Homo sapiens: one gene and its partners. The protein of the gene in region 1 purifies or fractionates together with the protein of each later gene. This does not show direct contact. Each region holds a gene or a part of one and is shown on either strand. Other genes may lie near its edges.

What was found. Proteins that work in one complex are often made in the same cells at the same time.
Region 2: the proteins of NEU4 (region 1) and SUGT1 purify together in Homo sapiens (affinity purification with mass spectrometry; 2 studies listed by BioGRID and IntAct, with this or other methods). This does not show direct contact.
Region 3: the proteins of NEU4 (region 1) and IFI30 purify together in Homo sapiens (affinity purification with mass spectrometry; 2 studies listed by BioGRID and IntAct, with this or other methods). This does not show direct contact.

What each region holds. Positions count from the first base shown.
Region 1 is NC_000002.12:241,804,241-241,812,205, forward strand, and holds the start of NEU4 (sialidase-4), read left to right. Parts: upstream 1-4,952; 5' UTR 4,953-5,034; exon of another isoform or gene 5,035-5,128; intron 5,129-6,226; exon of another isoform or gene 6,227-6,456; intron 6,457-7,155; exon of another isoform or gene 7,156-7,188; coding exon of another isoform or gene 7,189-7,221; intron 7,222-7,965. UniProt on the Homo sapiens protein: Exo-alpha-sialidase that catalyzes the hydrolytic cleavage of the terminal sialic acid (N-acetylneuraminic acid, Neu5Ac) of a glycan moiety in the catabolism of glycolipids, glycoproteins and oligosacharides.
Region 2 is NC_000013.11:52,676,836-52,683,852, forward strand, and holds part of SUGT1 (protein SGT1 homolog), read left to right. Parts: intron 1-3,138; coding exon 3,139-3,320; intron 3,321-7,017. UniProt on the Homo sapiens protein: May play a role in ubiquitination and subsequent proteasomal degradation of target proteins.
Region 3 is NC_000019.10:18,168,835-18,176,829, forward strand, and holds the start of IFI30 (gamma-interferon-inducible lysosomal thiol reductase preproprotein), read left to right. Parts: upstream 1-4,978; 5' UTR 4,979-5,007; coding exon 5,008-5,139; intron 5,140-6,205; coding exon 6,206-6,388; intron 6,389-6,476; coding exon 6,477-6,551; intron 6,552-6,770; coding exon 6,771-6,863; intron 6,864-7,995. Other genes in the region: PIK3R2 (phosphatidylinositol 3-kinase regulatory subunit beta), read left to right, coding at 1-62, 253-460. UniProt on the Homo sapiens protein: Lysosomal thiol reductase that can reduce protein disulfide bonds. May facilitate the complete unfolding of proteins destined for lysosomal degradation. Plays an important role in antigen processing.

The sequences.
Region 1 (7,965 bases):
CCTTGCAGGGCTTCTGGGGCGTTGGGAAACCCAGGCCCGCCGGCCACGGCTCTAAAATGAAGAGGGCGGAGACCCCAGTGAAGAGCACCCCCCGCAATCCGCGCAGATCCCTCCCAGAGAAGGCCCTGAGCCCAGGCGGCAGCCACCCGCCCCCCTTCCGAGGCTGTGTCTCTGTTTAGAACTGAACACGAGGGTGGGGAGTGGGGGATGCTGGACCACAGGGCAGCACCTGCCCGGCAGGATGCGCGTGCCTGTGAGCCCCGGGACTCCCCAGGGTCCTGGGCACTGGGGCTGTGGATCCTCGGAGGAACTCAGAGTGGTTCCCCTGAATTTCCCGGCCCTGGCGACGAGGTGCTGGTCCCAGAGACAGGTGCAGGCACAGGCAGTGCCACAAAGACCGGCCCGGGAGCGGGGCAGGGGCCAGGGCTCAGCCGCTCCCGAACAGCTCCACAGCTTTCGCTGCAGGAGGTTTGGTTCTGATGGAAGGATGTTTTCTACAGAGAGATGGCACAACTGCTCACAAGACCAGGGTTCTAGCCGGAGCCCAGGTCGAGCTCAGCTCCACGACCCCTGCTGGTCAGCCCCTGATGCCTCGTGAAGGAGAGGAGTCTCACTTGCCAAAGGAGGCTGGAGTGGTTGGGGGTACACACACCCTTGGTTGCCTTGGAGACCGTGTTGGGTGTGGTGCCAGAGGGCAGCTGTGGGTACCCCTCTTTGTCATTCACAGGGAGGGACAGAGCCTCCCTGCCTGGCAGGACGTGATCCCTGGCTGCCAGGGGCTCAGCGGGTAAAGGGGGTGCACTCGCCGGGACCAGCCGATGCCTGGGGCACCCAGGAAACGCAGCTACTCTGCAGCATGCTCAGCCTGGAGGAGTTGCAGGAAGAGTGAATTTTCAGTGAGAGTCGGCCGTGAAGAATGGCAGGAGCTCTGCTGAGTCAGAGTCAGCCAGGGACGTCTGCAGGCCACCTTCCCTCCCCCTCAACCCAGGGACCTCCGCAGGCCACCCTCCCTCCCCCCTCAGCCCAGGGACCTCCGCAGGCCACCTTCCCTCCCCCCTCAGCCCAGGGACCTCCGCAGGCCACCTTCCCTCCCCCCTCAGCCCAGGAACCTCCGCAGGCCACCTTCCCTCCCCCCTCAGCCCAGGGACCTCCGCAGGCCACCTTCCCTCCCCCCTCAGCCCAGGGACCTCCGCAGGCCACCCTCCCTCCCCCCTCAGCCCAGGGACCTCCGCAGGCCACCCTCCCTCCCCCCTCAGCCCAGGGACCTCCGCAGGCCACCCTCCCTCCCCCCTCAGCCCAGGGACCTCCGCAGGCCACCCTCCCCCCTCAGCCCAGGAACCTCCGCAGGCCACCCTCCCTCCCCCCTCAGCCCAGGAACCTCCGCAGGCCACCCTCCCTCCCCCCTCAGCCCAGGGACCTCCGCAGGCCACCCTCCCCCCTCAGCCCAGGAACCTCCGCAGGCCACCCTCCCTCCCCCCTCAGCCCAGGAACCTCCGCAGGCCACCTTCCCTCCCCCCTCAGCCCAGGGACCTCCGCAGGCCACCCTCCCCCCTCAGCCCAGGAACCTCCGCAGGCCACCCTCCCTCCCCCCTCAGCCCAGGAACCTCCGCAGGCCACCCTCCCTCCCCCCTCAGCCCAGGAACCTCCGCAGGCCACCCTCCCTCCCCCCTCAGCCCAGGAACCTCCGCAGACCACCTTCCCTCCCCCCTCAGCCCAGGGACCTCCTCCCTCCCCCCTCAGCCCAAGGGACCTAGGCAGGCCACCCTCCCCCCTCAGCCCAGGAACCTCCGCAGGCCACCTTCCCTCCCCCCTCAGCCCAGGGACCTCCGCAGGCCACCTTCCCTCCCCCCTCAGCCCAGGGACCTCCGCAGGCCACCCTCCCTCCCCCCTCAGCCCAGGGACCTCCGCAGGCCACCCTCCCCCCTCAGCCCAGGGACCTCCGCAGGCCACCCTCCCCCCTCAGCCCAGGAACCTCCGCAGGCCACCCTCCCCCCTCAGCCCAGGAACCTCCGCAGGCCACCTTCCCTCCCCCCTCAGCCCAGGGACCTCCGCAGGCCACCTTCCCTCCCCCCTCAGCCCAGGGAACCTCCGCAGGCCACCTTCCCTCCCCCCTCAGCCCAGGGACCTCCGCAGGCCACCCTCCCTCCCCCCTCAGCCCAGGGACCTCTGCAGGCCACCCTCCCTCCCCCTCAGCCCAGGGACCTCCGCAGGCCACCCTCCCTCCCCCCTCAGCCCAGGGACCTCTGCAGGCCACCCTCCCTCCCCCCTCAGCCCAGGGACCTCCGCAGGCCACCCTCCCCCCTCAGCCCAGGAACCTCCGCAGGCCACCTTCCCTCCCCCCTCAGCCCAGGGACCTCCGCAGGCCACCTTCCCTCCCCCCTCAGCCCAGGGACCTCCGCAGGCCACCCTCCCCCCTCAGCCCAGGAACCTCCGCAGGCCACCCTCCCTCCCCCCTCAGCCCAGGAACCTCCGCAGGCCACCTTCCCTCCCCCCTCAGCCCAGGGACCTCCGCAGGCCACCCTCCCCCCTCAGCCCAGGAACCTCCGCAGGCCACCCTCCCTCCCCCCTCAGCCCAGGGACCTCCGCAGGCCACCTTCCCTCCCCCCTCAGCCCAGGGACCTCCGCAGGCCACCTTCCCTCCCCCCTCAGCCCAGGGACCTCCGCAGGCCACCTTCCCTCCCCCCTCAGCCCAGGAACCTCCGCAGGCCACCTTCCCTCCCCCCTCAGCCCAGGGACCTCCGCAGGCCACCCTCCCCCCTCAGCCCAGGAACCTCCGCAGGCCACCCTCCCCCCTCAGCCCAGGAACCTCCGCAGGCCACCCTCCCTCCCCCCTCAGCCCAGGAACCTCCGCAGGCCACCCTCCCTCCCCCCTCAGCCCAGGAACCTCCGCAGGCCACCTTCCCTCCCCCCTCAGCCCAGGGACCTCCGCAGGCCACCTTCCCTCCCCCCTCAGCCCAGGAACCTCCGCAGGCCACCCTCCCTCCCCCCTCAGCCCAGGAACCTCCGCAGGCCACCTTCCCTCCCCCCTCAGCCCAGGAACCTCCGCAGGCCACCTTCCCTCCCGCCTCAGCCCAGGGACCTCCGCAGGCCACCTTCCCTCCCCCCTCAGCCCAGGAACCTCCGCAGGCCAGCTTCCCTCCCCCCTCACGCCAGGGACCCGGGAAGAGCACCTTCCCTCCCCCCTCAGCCCAGGGACCTCCGCAGGCCACCCTCCCTCCCCCCTCAGCCCAGGGACCTCCGCAGGCCACCTTCCCTCCCCCTCAACCCAGGGACCTCCGCAGGCCACCCTCCCTCCCCCCTCAGCCCAGGGACCTCCGCAGGCCACCTTCCCTCCCCCCTCAGCCCAGGGACCTCTGCAGGCCACCTTCCCTCCCTCCCCCCTCAGCCCAGGGACCTCTGCAGGCCACCCTCCCTCCCTCCCCCCTCAGCCCAGGGACCTCCGCAGGCCACCCTCCCTCCCCCCTCAGCCCAGGGACCTCTGCAGGCCACCTTCCCTCCCCCCTCAGCCCAGGGACCTCTGCAGGCCACCTTCCCTCCCCCCTCAGCCCAGGGACCTCCGCAGGCCACCCTCCCTCCCCCCTCAGCCCAGGGACCTCCGCAGGCCACCCTCCCTCCCCCCTCAGCCCAGGGACCTCTGCAGGCCACCTTCCCTCCCTCCCCCCTCAGCCCAGGGACCTCTGCAGGCCACCCTCCCTCCCTCCCCCCTCAGCCCAGGGACCTCCGCAGGCCACCCTCCCTCCCCCCTCAGCCCAGGGACCTCTGCAGGCCACCTTCCCTCCCCCCTCAGCCCAGGGACCTCTGCAGGCCACTCTCCCCTCTTAGCCCAGGGACCTCGGCAGGCCACCCTCCCTCCCTCCCTCCCTCCCCCCTCAGCCCAGGAAAGGCACAGGAGAGGATCCTGCCAGGTAAAGGGAAAGTGGCCCGGGAGGAGCCCACGTGCCAACAACAGGAGTCCCAGAAGACAGAAAAGACCACAGATGAGAAAGCAGTTCACGCAGAGAACAAAACGTTCCCGGACCAAACCCAGGGTCGGGTTGCTCATTCCCGAGGCCCGATAGCGAGATGCAGATGAACTGGGGAAGAAGAGGGATTTTATTTCTGTAACTGGTTACAGGGAGAAGGCCTGGAAATGATCGCCAGACCAACTCCAGATTACAGTTTTTCCAGAGCTTACACACCTTCTAAGCTCTGTGTCTCCGTGTCAGTGTGCATTCGTCTAAAGACGTACGTGATTCAATTCTTCTCATCTCTAACTGAGGTCTGGTCCTGAAGATCTTCCTCTGAAGACTCAGTAAATTTACTTGATCTAAATGGGCCCAGGTGTTTACCCTTATCTTGTCTTCTGCTAAATCATGGAGGTTTGGGGAGTTCCTTCTCCACTTGTTTGTGGAGGCCTGGGGAGTTTTTTCAGACCCCCAGTAAAACTTGTTTAATCCTAAACGGGTCCTGGTCTCGTCATGCTTCAAGGCCCAAGAAAGCCCTGGGCAAAACTCTTGATGGGCTTTTGTTACGTCCCAGCCCTCGTGTGAGGGCGCTGGCTCTCAGCTTTCAGGATTTCACTTCACCCTCAGTCAGTGCTGAACAGTTGTCGCGGAGGCCTGCGTGAGTGAGGCCTGGCGTGCCCTGGAAACATTCCCCTGAGTTGAAGAAAGACTCACAGTTTTCAGCATCCAGTTACCCTCTGAGCATCAGGCAGAACCCGCCGGCCCCAAAACCAGGCCCCCTTGGCACATGTGGGCCCGAGTGAGTCCAGCATGAGGAGGTGCCGCTTCTGAGCAGAGCTCAGGTTGTCTCTGGGAGGAGGAGCGAGCGTTGGGTGCGGTGGCCGCTGCGTTGGCAGCCCTGTCCCTGAGCGGAACGCAGGTCGTCTCTGGGAGGAGGAGCGAGGGTTGGACGCAGTGGCCGCTGCGGTGGCAGCCCTGTCCCCAGGCGTGGACTCTGCCCTCAGCTTCACAGTCACCGAAGAAATGAAGTTACAGGAGGGGCACACCGTCCTTTTGTCTCTGCCTTTGAGGTTGGCGGGAACTGAAACTGGTACGGTCTTTTTGAATAGAAATTTGGGGTCTTTCTGGCGACGTAAAACTGTGTGTAGTTTGCAGTAGAGAGTGTTGAGAACAGCCTGTCCGGGCTGTGCATTGAGAAGGGGCGGTTAAAATGCTGCCACGTCGTGCAGCCCATAAAAGGGGGACACAGAGTAGCCGAAACTGCTCTTGGGGGAGGGGGCACGTCCCAGCCTTCCGTGTGATGCTGGGGTCAGCGTGGCCCCTCGGCTGCCAGAGCTCACGAAGACGGTTAAGGAAAGCTTCCCCCGGGTGGCTTTCACCCCACGGGGACAGAGCCCCAGATGGGCCCAGGGACCTCTGAGCAGCCGTGGGCCATGGGGTGACAGTTGGGGGTTGGTGGGACCCGTGGCTGTCATATACCCTGGGTAGACGGTGGCTTGTCCAGGCAGAGATGCCCAGGGGAAGTGGGTGGCACCTGAGGGCAGATCTGACTTTTCAAGAGAAGCTGAAAACACGGGTTTTTCTGTGAAATCTCTAGATTGAAAACAGTGGGCTTGAAAAGCCTGGAGCAGAGGGAGTGAGGCCTGCCCCCCACCCCAGCTCTGCGGGCACACCCTGGCCAGACAGCCCTGCTCCAGACCCGGCCTGTGTCTCAGGGTGGCCCAGGAGGGGACTTTGCAAGGTGACGTGGGGCTTGGAGGTCCCGTTTCCCTGTAAGCCTGGGTACTTAGGGGATGGCCCTGGTCAGACTCCACCAGTCCCAGACTTGGGGGACACGAGAAGGGAGATGGGCCACCCAGTTCTGGTTGGGCTGGGGTGGGGCTTCTGAGGGGTGGGGAGGTTGTCCCTTCCCACCCACCTGCCCCTGCCCCAGGATTCTCGGCTGTGAGCAGGAGGATGTGTACGATGGCCAAGTTGCCTGGACTGGGTCCGCCCCTCCTGGGGCTGTGAGTGCACAGGACACTGGGCCCACAGGCACCTCTGGGGCTCTGTCCCCGTGGGGTGAAAGCCACTTGGGGGAAGCTTTCCTTAACCGTCTTCACGAGCTCTGGCGGCCGAGGGGCCACGGGGGGCATTCAGATGAGTCAGAAGGAGCTGGGGCCCACCCCTCCTGCTTCCTCGCCGCCCCCCTCCCAGCTGCCCCCAGTAAATCCCCTCAGGCCCCTAGGACCTGGAGGGACGCGGCAGGTTTATCATCTCAGCCTGGAAACCACGTGACCTACCTGTTTCCCACCACAGCGCCCCAGGTTTCAGAAGCAGCTGAGGATGCCCTTCGCAGGGGAGGGAGGGACAGTGAGAAAGGAGGGTGTTCAGGGCCCAGGGATCCCCCACGGAGGCTGCCCCATCAGAACATACCGGGCACCTGTGGCCTCCTCTGAGATTCTGGCCTGGGCAGTGGTCATTTGAGCATTGGTTACCAAGGCTGCCTCTGAAATGGCAGGCTGGGGGCAGGCCAGCGTGAAAGGGACTGGCAGGAGTCCTGCGGGGACAGGCTGGGGGCAGGCCAGCGTGAAAGGGACTGGCAGGAGTCCTGCGGGGACAGGCTGGGGGCAGGCCAGCGTGAATGGGACTGGCAGGAGTCCTGCGGGGACAGGCTGGGGGCAGGCCAGCGTGAATGGGACTGGCAGGAGTCCTGCACGGCAGCTGTGCTGGGGAGGGGTCACCCTGGGCCCTGAGAGGCACAGGACATTGCGATGGGGTGCTGGCCTGCCAGGAGCACAGATACAGAGCTAGAGCCCAGTGAGGCCTGTGCTGTGAGGGGCTGTGCTGTGCCAGGGGAGGCCCCGCACCCGGGAAGCCCAGAGGAGAGTGTGCACTCACGGAGCCCTCCTGGCAGGGCCGCGTCTCTGGAGCAGCAGACCCGTGTCCCTCTGGGAGGTCAACTGCGGCCTCACAGCTGGGCCTGTCCCAGCACAGCCCTTGTTGGAGGGCGCACCCCCGTGTCCTCAGCACCCCAGTGTTGAGTGCCTTGACCTGCAGAGGGGAGCCTGTGCTGGTCCCGGGCGTCTGTGTGGCTCCTGGGTGCCCATCTGCACCCCTGGCCCTGCTCTGGGCTTCAGTGGAGCCGTGCCACCGTGGGAGTGTCCAGGGTCCTGACGTAGCCCTGAGACGTGGCCAGCTCCCTGGCCTGCTGCCCGCACAGTGGGCCCTTGTCTCTGCTCTGGGTCAGGCGAGGCAGCCACCCATGATGAGCTCTGCAGCCTTCCCAAGGTGGCTGGTGAGTCCCTGCCCTTTGCACCCCCAGCACCCTCACCCCTCTACCCGGGCGCCCGGGGTCAGGACCCGCTCCTGAGGTATCTGTCCAGCTGGCCGCCCCCTCTGTCTGGGGGTGCTGGACGAGTCCCACTCCTTGCCAACCCCAGGGTGGCTCCTCAGCTCTCAAACAAGGGGCGGGCTGCAGGGATTCCGAGGGCCCCTCCAGCAAGAGGTCCCACATGCATCTCCCAATGGGACACTTACCTGGCCCACAGGGTGGGTGTGACACTGAGGGTTCCTGGGGGCAGATTCAGGGCATGGGATGGAGACAGACTGGTTGTGAGGGGCCCAATGCAGGGGGCCGGCCCCAGCCCACAGGGTCGTTCTGCAGATGGGCTGGTCGGGGACGCTCTACCAGGTGAAGGGTCTGTGGTCGGAGTCTTCGCCCTGGCCAGGGCCCAGGACGCTCACGGTGCAGGCTGAGGGTCAGAGCCGCCGAGGGCCCCCTGCCGGGATTCTGTGCAAAGGGCCTCTGCACTTTATGTGGGTGCATGTGAATGCCCCTCGCCAAGATGTTCCTACCCTGCACCTGACACTTCCCACGACAAGAAGTGCTGACCCCAGAGGGTGTGCGCGGACCCCAGAGGGTGTGCGTGGACCCCAGAGGGTGTGTGCGGACCCCAGAGGGTGTGCGTGGAGGGCCTGGTCTGACCTCAAGGCTCTTGGGGCACCCACACAGGATGGGCTGTGAGGGGTTGGCGGGGGT
Region 2 (7,017 bases), on another chromosome or scaffold:
GGAGAAGAGTAGAAAACCAGGCTTCATTGTATATATAACCCTGTAAGAAACAGAACTTTGTGTTGAGGTCAATTTTAAGTATGTGCAATAACTAGGTAAGAATTTTTCTAGTGGACAAATTCACAGCACACTCAGAACTACAACCTAAGATTATATTTTATAGCAATAGCTTCATTAATGAGTGGAGGGAAATTTCTTTTTATTGGAAGTAATGGTCTGATTTAATGACTGAAACAAGCTAACATGTGTCTCAGCTTTTTCTGATTTTGACTGCTTTCTTCTGTAACAGAAAACACATTTCCTTGTGGCACCTTTTAGAAAACACTGAGTTATTCAACAGATCATTTGTGTGTGTGTTTGTGTGTGTGTGTATAGTTATTTCTTAAGAAATAATTTTGGATGTTTAGAAATTTCAAAAATAAGAGATTCTCATATAGCTTTCACCCAGTTTCCCCCATTGATAGTGTCTTAACTAGTCCAATGATTACCTCTTAAGTAGTCTGTGGTATAATTTTCAAAATCAGGGTATTAACACCAACAGATACTTTTTAAGGACTGAAGTATATCTAGTTGGTATTTAAGGTATTTAAGCATCTGCTTCACACTTTATTTGAAAGATGTATGTGTTTCTTTTAGGACTGACTCCAATAGATTTTGAGGCTGAGGTTTATATGTAGCTGAAAGCTTTAAAAAATATATAATCACTTTAAATGTAGTATCTTACTTAATTCTAACAGCCCTGCATAACAGGCAGCCCCTTAGTATTCCTCCCATTTTGCAGGCTCAGAAAAGTTAAGCTCAAGATTATCCCTCAGTTCTCATTGTCTAGGACTAAAATCTAGGTCTTCTCAGTTGGGTCCAGTTATTCTGTTAACCCGTTGTCTACTTGTTGCATACTGCTTGTTGTTGCATTTTCTAACAATGGAAACAGTCTTTGCCGACATGAGTATCTAGTAGTTATTTGATATTATAGTGAATGAGCAGGGAGGTTAGATTACTCATCTCTCAGTAGTTCATCTGCCATCTCCAGGTGTTAAAAGTTTTTCTGAGATTAAAGATCAAGGCTTTTTAGTGTTACAGTTACCATGTTTTTTCTAAACTCAACACCTTAGATATTCAAGATGATACTCTTCCTGTCCTGTTTTTGTAAGAAATTAATATACTTGTCAGATTCCTGTGTATTGCAAGCTGGAGACTGTAGATAAGGGCAAGTCACTTAACCTATCTGACCCAGCTTGCTTATCTACAAAATAGAGATTAAAACCTCTGTTCTCATCCTTCCTGGGAGTCAGCATTAGGATTAATTAAATCCATATTTCCCAGGCTCTTAACTTACCATGGCACGCATTTTTTGTTTTACCTGGCTACTAGTGAAAATGTACAAAGATAGAAGGATATCTAGTAGAAGGAAGGTGGATAGGATTTTCAAAACAATATATTTGGCCCTGAAAAAAAACTATGTGTTGGTGTTGTGTGTGTTGTTTTGTTTTGAGGAGGAATGGGCAGGGAGAAAGTCGGTTTACAAGTGAAGAGAAAGCGTAGAAAAACAGTGGATGTTAGTTTCTCAGCTATTTTGACAAAAGGGATGTAGAGAGCAGTATTGGGAGGAACATTTAGATTAGTACTAATGTGTCCTAATACATACTGATGGGGAAATTTTGAATTGGGTTTTTTGAAAACTGTAGCTCTTTTGTCCAACACAGTAGCTGCTAGCCACATGTTACCTGTTGAGCACTTGAAATATGACTAGTCTGCATTGAGATGATGTGCTATGTGAAATATATGCTACAGTTTGAAGAGTTAGTATGAAAAAAAGAATATAAAATATCTTCATTTTTTTTGTTGGTTTTTTTTTTTTTTTAAGAGAGAGTCTTGCTGTGTCACCCAGGCTGGAATGCAGTGGCACTGTCATGGCTCAGTGTAGCCTCAACCTCCTGGACTCAAGCAGTCCTCTACCCCAACCTTCCGAGTAGCTGGTACTGCAGGCATGTGCCACCACGCCCAGCTAATTATTATTATTTTTTTTTCATAGAGATGGGCTCTCACTATGTTGCCCAGGCTGGTCTCACACTTCTGGCCTCAAGCAATCCTCCTACTTGGCCTCCCAAAGTGCTGGGATTATAGGTGTGAGCCCCCATGCCCGGCCTCTGTTGGTTTCAAGTCAATATGATACTATATTTGATATATCAGGTTAAATAAAATGTATTATTAAACTGCATTTCACCTGATTCTTTTTAGTAATGTAGTTACTAGGAAGTTTTAAATTATATATGTGACTCACATTTGAGGCTGTCATTATATTTTCATTGGATAGTCAACAGAGCTGCTCCTATAGCTACTAGGTTGTCTAGTTATTTTCTAATTATTTGTGTGCCAAGATCTTGATGCCTTTGGTCTTTGGAGCAATCTTGGCAGTACCCCGAGCCCCTGGGCCAGTAGCCTCTCTCGCTGCAAGCAGCTCTGTTTACTCCAGTGTGCCCTACAAATACTATTATTTGCTAGGTGTATGGGATGTGGGCATTGAACTTTAGATCATCAAGTGTAGTACTTTAAACATTTAGAAATTACTTACTGTTATTGCCTATTAAAATAATCTTACTTTTTTGATGGGAGAGTATGGAGTGGCATGGATGATTATTTATATTTTCAGGCTATTTATACTCTGAAAGATACTAAGTACTTTAGAAAAAGTCACATTTTTAACATTTATTAAAATCTTAGTTACAAAAGATTTCTTAGGCATCCTTTAAAAAATTTCATTTTTAGAATTGTTCGTACTGTCTCTGCAACTTTTCTGAAAACATAAAAGTTCTGTATACTTTTCATCTAGTTTCTGTTATCAACATGAAGAATCTGCTTTTAATCTAATTTTGTATAGCATATCAAAAGTTTACACTTTATTGAGTTATTTTGCTCAAAAGAAATCCCCAGATTTTACATTATGGTAACTGACTCAGTTTTTAGAAATGTGAATTTTGTTATTGACCTATATACCAGAAAGACACTTATTGCATACCTGAAATTCAGTAACCTAAACTGTTTGCTAAGATGTTCCATATACATGGTCACAAAGTTTACATATTCTCGACATAATTGAAACATGTTGATTAATTACTTCTGCCTTTTTTTACTTCATAGATGTAAAGAACCTATATCCATCATCATCTCCTTATACAAGAAATTGGGATAAATTGGTTGGTGAGATCAAAGAAGAAGAAAAGAATGAAAAGTTGGAGGGAGATGCAGCTTTAAACAGATTATTTCAGCAGATCTATTCAGATGGTTCTGATGAAGTGAAACGTGCCATGAACAAATCCTTTGTAAGAATATAAACTTAAAGAAATATATATGGGAGCAAATTTTACATATTTTAAACGAGAAAATTGGTAATGTGAGACCAAATTGCGTGTACTATAGCTGGGAGAACTTTTTGAATAAGGTCTGTCTGAACGTTTCTTTTTGCTCTAAGAGTAATTTTTGAGGAAGTTGAAAACTTATGGAAGAGATGAGAAACAAGTGGTTTATCTTAAATAGGTATTTTTTATCAGTGAGTTAGATTGATATGGAGTCATCTCACTTGGATTTATCCCAGTAGCTGAGTGAACTTCTGTTGTTTCCCTTCTAGACTCATATGTAGCCTCAGTGTTAGAGATGAAGAATATAGATACGAAACTTTTCAGAATAGTGTTTGCAAGTAGAAGGTGCACGTTATTCATTGGTTTAACAACTCTCTTGATTAAGAAAATTCAGGCTTTTTGTCAGGGCAGCATAAATACCTAAATTAGACCTCAAAATTTTAGTAATAATTCGTCATTGTATATTTAGCTTGCAGTTGTAATCATGTGACTTTTATTAATACCAGTAGCTCTGGAAATATGACTCTTTTAAGACATATTTACAGTAGAAAGTTAAAATTAGTATTTTAATTTAATATTTAGTTAATGTGGTTGAGGCTTAGGTATTTCACACTTAAGAAATCTGTGGTAATTGGTCATGATTGTGCTTTTCACAGTTTATTTATTTAGAGACAAGGTCTCACTCTGTTGCCCAGGCTTGAGTACAGTGGCGTGATCTCGGCTCACTGCAGCCTCTGTCTGCCGGGCTCAAGTGATTTTCCTACCTCAGCCTCTGCAGTAGCTGGGACTATAGACATGCACCACCACGCCTGGCTACTTTATTTCTTGTAGAGGTGGGGTTGCGCCACGTTGCCCAGGCTGGTCTCGAACTCCTGGCTTCAAGCAATCTAGCCGCCTCAGCCTCCCAAAGTGCTGGGATTACAGGCGTGAGGCACCTCAACCAGCCTCACTATTGATTAAAAAATTTTTTTTCATCACTTTTGGGAGACTGAGGTGGGAGGATCACTTGAGCTAAAGATCTTGAGATTAGCCTGGGCAACATAGAGAGACCCTATCTCTACAAAAAAAAAAAAAAAATTAGCTAGGCCTGGTGGCATGTGTCTGTGGTCTTAGCTACTTGGGAAGGTGAGGTGGGAGGATCTCTTGAGCCTGGGTGGTCAAGGTTGCAGTGAGCTGTTTTTTTGTGCCACTGAACTACAGCCTGGGCAACAGAGACCCTGTCTCAAAAAAAAAAAAAAAGTCTTCATTAAACTTTTAGTTTTGAGATAATTGTAGATTGACATGCAATCCTAAGAAATGAGATTCTTTGTACCTTTTACAAAGTTTCCATTGATGGAAACATTTTGTCAAAACTATGCTACAACATCACAACCATGATACTGACAGTTAAGATAGGGAACCTTTAATCCCAGTGCTTTGGGAGTCTGAGGCCACAGGATCCCTTGAGGCTAGACCAGCCTGGACAATATGGTAAGTTCTGGTCTCTACAAGAAATTTAAAAGCTACCTTGGCATGATGTTGTGCCCCTGTCAGCTCAGGCGTCTGCGGCAAGAGTATTGTTTGAGCCCAGGAGTTCAAGGTTGCAGTGAGCTATGATCGTGCCACTACACTTAGCTTGGGCAGCAAAGTGAGACCCTATCTCTTTAAAAAAAAAAAAAAGAGAGAGAGAGAGATAGAACATTTTCATGGATTCCAAGGATCCCTTATGTTGCTATCTTATGGCCATACTAACCCCACCCCCACCCTTCCATGATCCCTGATGATCACAAATCTGGCAATCTTTGTCAGATATGTAGTTTACACATATTTTCTCCCAGTATGTAGTTTTCATTTTCTTAATAGGGTCTTTCATAGAACCAAAATATTTCATTTTGATTAAGTCTAATTTACCGCTTTTTATGGATCATGCTTTTAGTTTCAGGTCTTATTAACTCTTTGCCTAGTCCTAGATCTCAAAGACTCTCTCCTATTTAAAAAATAAATAAAAGTAATATTGTTTTACATATTACATTTATTTTTTATTTAGAGACAGGGTCTCATTCTGTCACCCAGGCTGAAGTACAGTGGCACAGTCACAGTTCACTGTAACCTCAAAGTCCTGGGCTCAAGTGATCCTTATGCCTCAGCCTCCCAAGTAGATGGGACTACACATCCATGCTGCCATGCCTGGCTAATTTTTAAAATTTTTTGTAGAGGTGGGGGTGTCTCCGTATTGCTTAGGGTGGTCTCGAACTTCTGACCTCAAGCAGTCCTTCGGCCTTGGCTTCCTGAAGTGCTAGAGTTACAGGCGTGAGCCACAGCACCTGGCCTACATATTACATTTAAGTCTGTGATGCATTTTGAATTTTTATGTCAAGTGTGAGATTTAACTTGAGGTTCCTTTTTGTGGGGTGGATAGTATGTTCGGGTGTTCTGGCACCTATCTTTTCTCATTGAATTGCTTTTGCACCTTTCTTAAAAATCAGTTGAGCGTATTTGTGTGAGTCTATTTCTAAGTTCCCCACTGTGTTAGATTGAGCTGTATGTGATCTATATGTATGTTCCTCTGTCAGTCCCACTGTCTTAAGCTGTAGCTGTTTAAGTCTGAAATTGGGCAGACTCATTCCTCCTACTTTATCCTTTATTTTCACAATTGTTTTTAGATATTCTAACTCATTTGTCTTTCCATGTAAATTTTAGAATAAAGTGATTATATATAATTTTGGTGTTCATTACTAGAATCTAGACATACAGTTAATTTTATGTTTATCTTGTATTCTGTGACATTGCTGGACTCAGTTCTAGGAGTATTTTTGGATAGATTGTCATTTTTTTAATGTGGACAATCATCTTCAAATATGGAGGTTTTATTTATCTGCAGATACGGAGAGTTTTATTTCTCCCTTTTCTATCTGTATGCCTTTTATCTCCTTTTCTTGCTATATTTCACTGGCTGCAACTTCCGCACTGTGTTGAATAAGAGTAGTGAGAGTGGACATCCTTGCCTTGTTTCCCATTTTAAGGGAAAAGTATCTGTTGTTTCATCATTAAGTATAATGTTAACTGTAAATTTTTGGTAGATGATCTTTGTCAAGTTATGAAAGTTCTGTTGTATTCCTATTTTTCTGAAATTTTTTTATCATTAACTTTCAATATTAACTTTTTGTCAGATGTTTTGTCTGTGTTGATTGATAGGATTATATGATTTTTCTTCCTTAGCCTGTTAATATGGTGATTTTATATGATTAATATGATTGATTTTCAAGTATTGAGACAGTCTTGCATGAGCCCTACTTTGTCATATAGTGTATCTCTTAATTCTATCTTCTAATGTTTTGTTATGGGTTATTGTGTCTATATTCATGAGGAATATGAGTCTAATTTTCTTTTTGTGCTATCTTTGGTTTGGCATCAGAGTAATACTTCATAAAATGAATTAGGAAGCATTGCATCCTCTTCTGTTTTTTAGAAGATATTGTGTATAATTGGTGTTAACTTTTCTTAAGTATTTGGTAGAACTCACCAGTGAAACGGTCTGGGCCTGGAGATTTCTTTATTAGGAGATTTACAGTTATGAATTTAGTTAACCTAAAAGTTTTTATAGGACTGTTCCAATTATCTATTTCATATGGGTGACTTGTGGTTTGTTTCTGATAAATTTATCCATTTTGTCCAAGTTGTC
Region 3 (7,995 bases), on another chromosome or scaffold:
CGGGATGGCACCTTCCTCATCCGCGAGAGCAGCCAGCGGGGCTGCTACGCCTGCTCCGTGGTGTGAGTGGACCGCAGCGGTGGGGATTCCCGCGTCCCTCCCAGAGCTCTCATTGAATGCCTGCCGCGTGCCAGGCCTTGGGAAGGAGTCCCTGGTGGGGTCATCCGGGACAGGGGAGCACGCGGCCCTGGAACGGGGAAAGCTTGGCGGGGAGGCCAGCCTTCCGACTCCCCCTCTCGTCTGCCCCCACAGAGTGGACGGCGACACCAAGCACTGCGTCATCTACCGCACGGCCACCGGCTTCGGCTTCGCGGAGCCCTACAACCTGTACGGGTCGCTGAAGGAGCTGGTGCTGCACTACCAGCACGCCTCGCTGGTGCAGCACAACGACGCGCTCACCGTCACCCTGGCGCACCCAGTGCGCGCCCCGGGCCCCGGCCCGCCGCCTGCCGCCCGCTGAGCACCGAGGACCCGCCCCAAGCAGAGCCGCCCCTGGGCCCGTCTGCGCCGGAGGCTGCGGCGGCGGGAGCCACGGACCAGACCAGCCACATCCAGGGGTCCTCATTTCTCCGGCTCTGGCTCTTGTTTGGGGTTCTCTCACCCTCTTTCTCTTTCCTTCCCTCCCCCATTCTCCAGATCTCCCTCTGTCTCCTTTTCTCTGTCTTTCTTGGCCCCTGTCTCTCTCCATGTTGGGGGTCCTAACTCCCCCACCCCATATCTACGTGTCCTCCGGGCATTGCCCTCTCCATGGCTCTGGTCACCCTGACCCTCTGCCCTGCCCACCGCAGGTCCCCCGGGGTCCCGGAAGCCCCTTCTGGCTGCACCTGCCATGTTTACAGAGGGCCCCTGGGCTGCGCGGCCCCAGCCTGGGCACCCTGATTTTTAAGCCATAGACCTGGGGTCAGGGCAGGAAGGAACTTCACTCTGCTGCTTCCGAGAACCTCGGCCGTGACATTCGGGGCCGGGCGGGACCCGCCCCACAGACTCCAACTTCCCCTCCAAACCCCGAAGTGAAACCCGCCACCGGGTTACCCCCACAAGGGGGCCGCTGCGAGAAGTTCACCCACCCCCGAAAAAATAATTAAACTCGCAGGCCAGGCACGGTGGCTCATGCCTGTAATCCCAGCACTTTGGGAGGCCAAGACGGGCGGATCTTTTGAGGTCGGGAGTTGGAGGCCAGCCTGGCCAAAATGGCAAAACCCCGCATCTACTAAAATACAAAAATTAGCCGGGCGTGGTGGCGGCCGCCTGTAATCCCAGCTACTTGGGAGGCTGAGGCGTGAGAATCTCTTGAACCCAGGAGATGGAGGTTGCAGTGAGCAGAGATCGTGCCACTGCACTCCAGCCTGGGTAACAGAGGGAGACTCCTCCGTCTCAAAAAAATAAATAAATAAACTTGTGAGCTGGCCCCAACCCCTCCTAGGAATCACAGCTCCCCGTACTGGTGCCGCCGCAGTGGCCAAGTTGCGACACTGCCCACGGCCCCTCCCTCTGATGCAGATTCAGGGCTTCTCTTCGATCATGTTGGGTTTTGATTCTGTTTTTCCTTGACTGCAAAACCCTCTTTCCTCTCCTCTTTTGGGACAAGAGCCCTGGTTTTCTACGCTGCCCTTGGCCACCACACTGCCTGCCCCACGAGCTGGGAGGCAGGTTTTGTACGGTACGTTGTTATTGATATGATATAAAACATCAAACGTCGTGGGTGATTCTGTTGTCAGTGACTGGGCTTCAGTACCACCTCTGCGTGTCGGGGACCCTGGTGTCTACGGGGGTCACAGCAGGTCGGACCCGTGGGTTTAACTCCAAGCCCCTCTGAGACCCGACAACCCCTCCCTCCCCCAGTTTAGCTGCTCAAGCCTGGAGAGGTTGAGGCAGTGCCCAAGGTCATACAGGAGAGAGATTCGAATCCTGAGCTCCCGACTGCTCAGGGGACCCCAGACCCCATCCAGCCCCTCAAGTGCTTCCAAGCTGCTTCCCCCGCCCACCGCCCCCAAATTTGAATCCTGTCGCAACCATCAGCTGTGTCCTTGGGAAAGTTGTATCCCCTCCCTGATCCACAGCTTCCTCATTCATTGCCAAGTGGCGTCAAAAGTCAAAACCCTCCCATGCCACAGGGAGGAGTCTCCCGTGTCTTTGATGTTCTCAAGTCGTCGGCACCTCCAGCCAGCATTGGAGGCTCTTCTCTGACCTCTCCTCACCCACTCCCATGCACAGCCCGCCGGGTCCCAGGAGACGCTGAGCAAAAGCCCTGTGGGGTTTTTTGTGTTTCTTTTTAAAGAGTCAAGGTCTCTCACTCTGTCACCCAGGCTGGAGTGCAGTTGTGCGAACACAGCTCGCGGCTCACAGCCTCAAGCTCCTGGTTCCCAGCCTCAAGCAGTCCTCTCATCTCAGCCTTTAGAGTCACTGGATTACGGGTGTGTGTCACCATGTCCAGCTAATTATTTTTAAATTTTTTTAGAAACAAGATCTTGCCGAGTGCAGTGGCTCACACCTGTAATTCCAGCACTTGGGGAAGCCAAGGCAGGCAGATCACTTGAGGTCAGGAGTTTGAGACCAGCCTGGCCAACATGGTAAAACCTGGTCTCCACTAAAAATACAAAAAAAAATTAGCCAGACATGGTGGCGCATGCCTGTAATCCCAGCTACTTGGGAGGCTGAGATAGGAAGATCAGATGAACCTGGGAGGTCAACGCTGCACCAAGCCAAGATCGTGCCACTGTTCTCCAGCCTGGGTGACAGAGTGAGACTCTGTCTCAAGAAAAAAAAAAAAAAAAAGGGTCTTGCCCTTTTCCAGGTGGGTCTCAAACTCCTGGCCTCTAGTGATCCTCCCACCTCAGCCTCCCTGAGTCGCGTAAGCCACCACGCGTGGCCTCATGGCGTCTTTGACTTGGACTCCTGTTTACCACCCTCCCCATCACACCCAGAATCCACACCCCCACTGCGACGTCATTGTCCCTTCAGCCCTCCCCAACCCTGGGGCCTCACTGTCCTTGTCTGTTTTGTACAGCCACCTCTCAAGGCCCAACAAGGCTGAACCTGGGGCAAGTGCAGAAAGAAACCTCCACTCTGACCCAGTCTACTGCTGGGACCTTGGGACAGGACCTGCCTCCCTTAGCCTCAGAGCCCCCTAGCCTTGCCAGGCACTGTCCCTGCCATGTGTCCTGTCTGGAGATAACCCATAAATAACTCCAGCCCAGATTGTGCCTCTCACTGCATAGGTGCTCACAGGAGAAAGGTTGCCATCTTTATGATCCCAGCTATGCTGAGCTGGGGGTGGAAGAGAATATCCCGTGTGGTCTCTAAAAACACTCAACCACTGGCTGTGTGTCCTTGGCAAAATAGCCTTCCCTCTCTGATCAGCCATTTATTTGTTACCAGCTGGAGTCAGTAGCACCTACCCCCAGCCCCAACTGGATGCTTCTGAGGGTTCAATGATAAAATGGGTTGTAGGCCCACTCTATGCCTGGCACCAAGCCAGAGAGCAATACATTGTAGGGTTACATTTATGATTTCTTCCAATAGGGCTGGTGCCTGGTAACTACTGGAAAAATTGTAGCAATTATATTTATGGTTATTTCTTCAATCCCACCCGGCATAGGGTAAGCACCAAAGTTGGGGTGGTGAGTCTTGGGGAGCCTTTGCCAACGGTTTGGTCGTCTGAGGGATGGGCTCGGGGACCATCCAGCCACTGGGACTTCAGAGAAGCTCCGGCTCCCAAACCAGCTACTGTGTGTGTGGCCAGGGTCTTCCCCACAACTAGAGGGGGGCACAGCTGGGGACTCAGGTATATCTTCCAGCTGGGTGTGGGACATTTTCTTCCCTAGGATCCGATGTGTCTTGCCCTGAATGTAAGGCCTGGCAGGGTTGGAATGTCTCAGTTATTCCCCCAACACTCCAGCCTCCATCTGGGCCTTTTTTCCAGGCTATTCTCTCTGCCTTCACTGTTGGGGCCACTGTCCTGTGTAGGCACCAAGGCCTGACCATGCCATCCAGAAGCCCCAGCCTGGGACAACTCTCCCCCACCTGCCTCTGAGCCCTCCATGGTGACTCTTGTTCCCCAAACCTTATCCTTCTCCCCATTACACAGAAGGGAAAGCTGAGGCTCTGTCACTCAAATCCAAAGCCAGGTGGACTCCAAGCCACCCCACCCCTATCCCAGACAGCACAGGCTGCCTCTCTCCCCCATGGGCGTCCCTTGAAGGCCAGGTTGCCCCCCACCCCCCACAAGCCTTGAACGATGAAAAGAAGGAAGGCCAGTTCTCTTCACCCCAAGCCAGAAGTGGGGCTGGGTGGGTACCCTAGAGAAATGACACGCCACTCCCTGCGCCAGCTTCTGCTTTCCGGCGTGGCTGTGGTCAAGCCTGAGTCAGTCCCACGGGACCACGGTGAGGGGTCTGGAGCGTCGGGGTCAGGAGTTTGAGGGGGGAAGGGTTGAGGGGCAGGATGTGGGGGTTGGGTGTGAGGGAGGTCACGGGCGAGACTGGAGGGAGGAGACCTGGCCACACAGGCCTTGCCCACTCTCGGGGGCCTGAATATTTCAGTTACTCCCCCAAAACCCCGGCCTCCATCCCATCCCCAGCCTCCATCCGACGTCACCCCTGTTAGGTCACAGGCCCACTCTGAGAGTGGGTCTCGGGCCTCAAGTCCCCTAGCCGCCCCTAGAAGGTCTAGGGGTGCGTGGAGACACCACCATTCCTCTCAGCCTGTGTCTGTCTCAAAGGCCCCACCTCACCTCCCCTAAAGGTAGTCTTGCGCCAGGGCTCACGTGCCTGGGCAGGGCTGATTGCCAAGGGGCCCAATGGCCTCGTGACTGGGGACCCAGCACCTGGCAGGGGTGGGGGTGGGACACTCAGAGGAAGGAGTGGAGGAGGGAGAGACGCTGGCCCGGGACCCGAGGGGCGTGGGCATCGGGAGGCGGGCCCGGGTTAGGGGCGGGACCGCCGCCTGGTTAAAGGCGCTTATTTCCCAGGCAGCCGCTGCAGTCGCCACACCTTTGCCCCTGCTGCGATGACCCTGTCGCCACTTCTGCTGTTCCTGCCACCGCTGCTGCTGCTGCTGGACGTCCCCACGGCGGCGGTGCAGGCGTCCCCTCTGCAAGCGTTAGACTTCTTTGGGAATGGGCCACCAGTTAACTACAAGGTAGGGACGGCGACAGGGCGGGCAGGCTGGAGGGAACAGGCGCCCTGTCGGGGCACGCGGCTCCTTCTTTCTCCCCAGACTTCACAGGGGAAGACCAGGGCCCCGAGGGGACGCTGTCCCTGCCGGGTTCCTGGAAAAACCCTGTTCAGTTCCCGGCGCTGCGGCCACACTCCCTCCGTGCCGTTTCGCTTTCGCATCCCGCATCTGAGAGGCGCAGCTGCCTCCACCCGCCTAGTCCCGCCCAAGGGTTCAATGAGCGCCTACTGTGTACTTTTGGGGCAGGAGCTGGGGTCTCCTTTTGTGGCCCAGGGCACAAGTTCAGCAGCTGGCCAAGGGCCGCCGGCATGCATTCTTGCTGCTACCCTTGATGCATTCATTCCAGCCAGGGCAGGGCTCGCGTGTCTTTGGGACCTATTAGGCAGATGCCCTAGAGGCTGAGCGACTTGCTCACCGCTCCAGCGACATGGGCCACCCGCCACCCCTCAGCTGAAGCCGGAAGTCAGCACCTATTAGGTGCCGCCTCTATTCAGTCGGACTTGGAAAGGGTTCACGTGGATCCCTTGCTCAGCTCAGAGGCAAGGTCTCCAGGTGAAGTGACAAGAAATGAGCATGGGCCAAGGCCGGAGGCGGTGGCTCATGCCTGTAATCCCAACACTTTGGAAGTCTGAGGCAGGCAGATCACGAGGTCAGGAGTTCGAGACCATTCTGGCCTACATGGAGAAACCCTGTCTCTACTAAAAATACAAAAATTAGCTGGGTGTGGTGGCATGTGCCTATAATCCCAGCTACTCAGGAGGCTGAGGCAGGACAATTGCTTGAACCAGGGAGTCGGGTGTTGCAGTGAGCCGAGATCGTGCCGCAGCACACCAGCCTAGCGACAGTGAGACTCCATCTCAAAAAAAAAAAAAAAAGTCTCAAAGTCAAGATTCCACCTGGCAAGTTCTGGAAGGCGTGCAAGATGAATTGCGTATCACAGCCCCCTTTCTACAAGACTACCAAGTGGGGTTGAGAGAAGTGGGGAACTGCCCAGGGCTACACCTGCCTCCCACGCCTTCCTAATCCACAGACAGGCAATCTATACCTGCGGGGGCCCCTGAAGAAGTCCAATGCACCGCTTGTCAATGTGACCCTCTACTATGAAGCACTGTGCGGTGGCTGCCGAGCCTTCCTGATCCGGGAGCTCTTCCCAACATGGCTGTTGGTCATGGAGATCCTCAATGTCACGCTGGTGCCCTACGGAAACGCACAGGTGTGTGGGCGCTGGGGAAACTGAGGCACGTGGGCAGGGGAGCAGGGGACCCAGCCTACCAGCAGGCTCTCACCCTGCTGCCTTGCAGGAACAAAATGTCAGTGGCAGGTGGGAGTTCAAGTGCCAGCATGGAGAAGAGGAGTGCAAATTCAACAAGGTGGAGGTGAGCGGCCCCAGGGCCCCACACTGGGGTGGGGGAAAACTGTCCCACGTACAGGAGGCAAATACGAGGATGCCAGCTCTGTCTTCTGCCTCGTGTGCTCCCATTTAATCACATCTTTATTCCCTATCTCCTGGGTGGGTACTGGTGATTATTACGAGAGGGTGTCAGGGTACCCTAGGCCCTCTTCATGCCCTCTCCTGCCCCCTCTCCAAACCCCAGGCCTGCGTGTTGGATGAACTTGACATGGAGCTAGCCTTCCTGACCATTGTCTGCATGGAAGAGTTTGAGGACATGGAGAGAAGTCTGCCACTAGTGAGTGACGCCCCTCACTCCACCCAAGGAGGGGGACATGGGTGGTAACCTTCCCTGCATCCAGGCAGACCCAAATTCAAGTCCTAGCCCTGACCACTGCTGTCTGTGCAGCCCAGGAAAACAACTACCCTTCTTTATTTTATTTATTTTTTTATTTTTTCTTGAGACAGAGTCTCGCTCTGTCGCCCAGGCTGGAATGCAGTGGCGCAATCCCAGCTCACTGCAACCTCCACCTCCAGGGTTCAAGTGATTCTCCAGCCTCAGCCTCCTGAGTAGCTGGGATTACAGTTGTGTGCCACCATGCCCAGCTAATTTTTGTGTTTTTAGTAGAGACAGGGTTTCACCATGTTGGTCAGGCTTGTCTTGAACTCCTGACCTTGTGATCCGCCTGCCTTGGCCTCCCAAAGTGCTGGGATTACAGGCGTGAGCCACCGCACCCAGCCCTTTTTTTTTTTTTTTTTTTTTTTTTTTTTTTGAGACAGGGTTTTGCTCTGTCGCCCAGGCTGGAGTGCAGTGGTGCAATCTTGGCTGACTGCAACCACTGTCTCCTCAGTTTAAGTGATCCTCCTGCCTCAGCTTCCCCAGTAGCTGGGACTACAGGTGTGCACCACCATGCCCGGCTAATTTTTGTATTTTTAGTAGAGACAGTGTTCACCATGTTGGCCAGGCTGGTCTCAAACTCCTGACCTCAAGTTATCCGCCTGTCCCAGCCTCCCAAAGGATTACAGGTGTAAGCCACCACGCCCGGCCCCAGCCTCCCCTCTTGAAGCCTCCATCTCTGAATCAGGGGAATGAATGCAGGTCTCTTAGGAGCATGAGTGATCACAGAGGACTTACTGGAGGAGGCATTTCTGAGCTGGGCATGGAAGGATGAGCAGGAATGTGCAGAGACACAGATGATGGGATGTGGAGATGATAGGACAGACCCCACCTACTTCCCCGGGGGATTGTGAAGAATGACTCCCAGAGAAGTGACTCATTGGCTCCAATCATTTATTCATTCATCAAACATCCGGGTCACCCAAGAGGCCTCACCTAGTGACACCCTAGTCCTGCAGGGTTAGATCAGGGCTGAGAGAGTGGCAAGGAGAGGGCACTGAGGAGACACTGTGGAAGGAGGATGAAGGGTGTT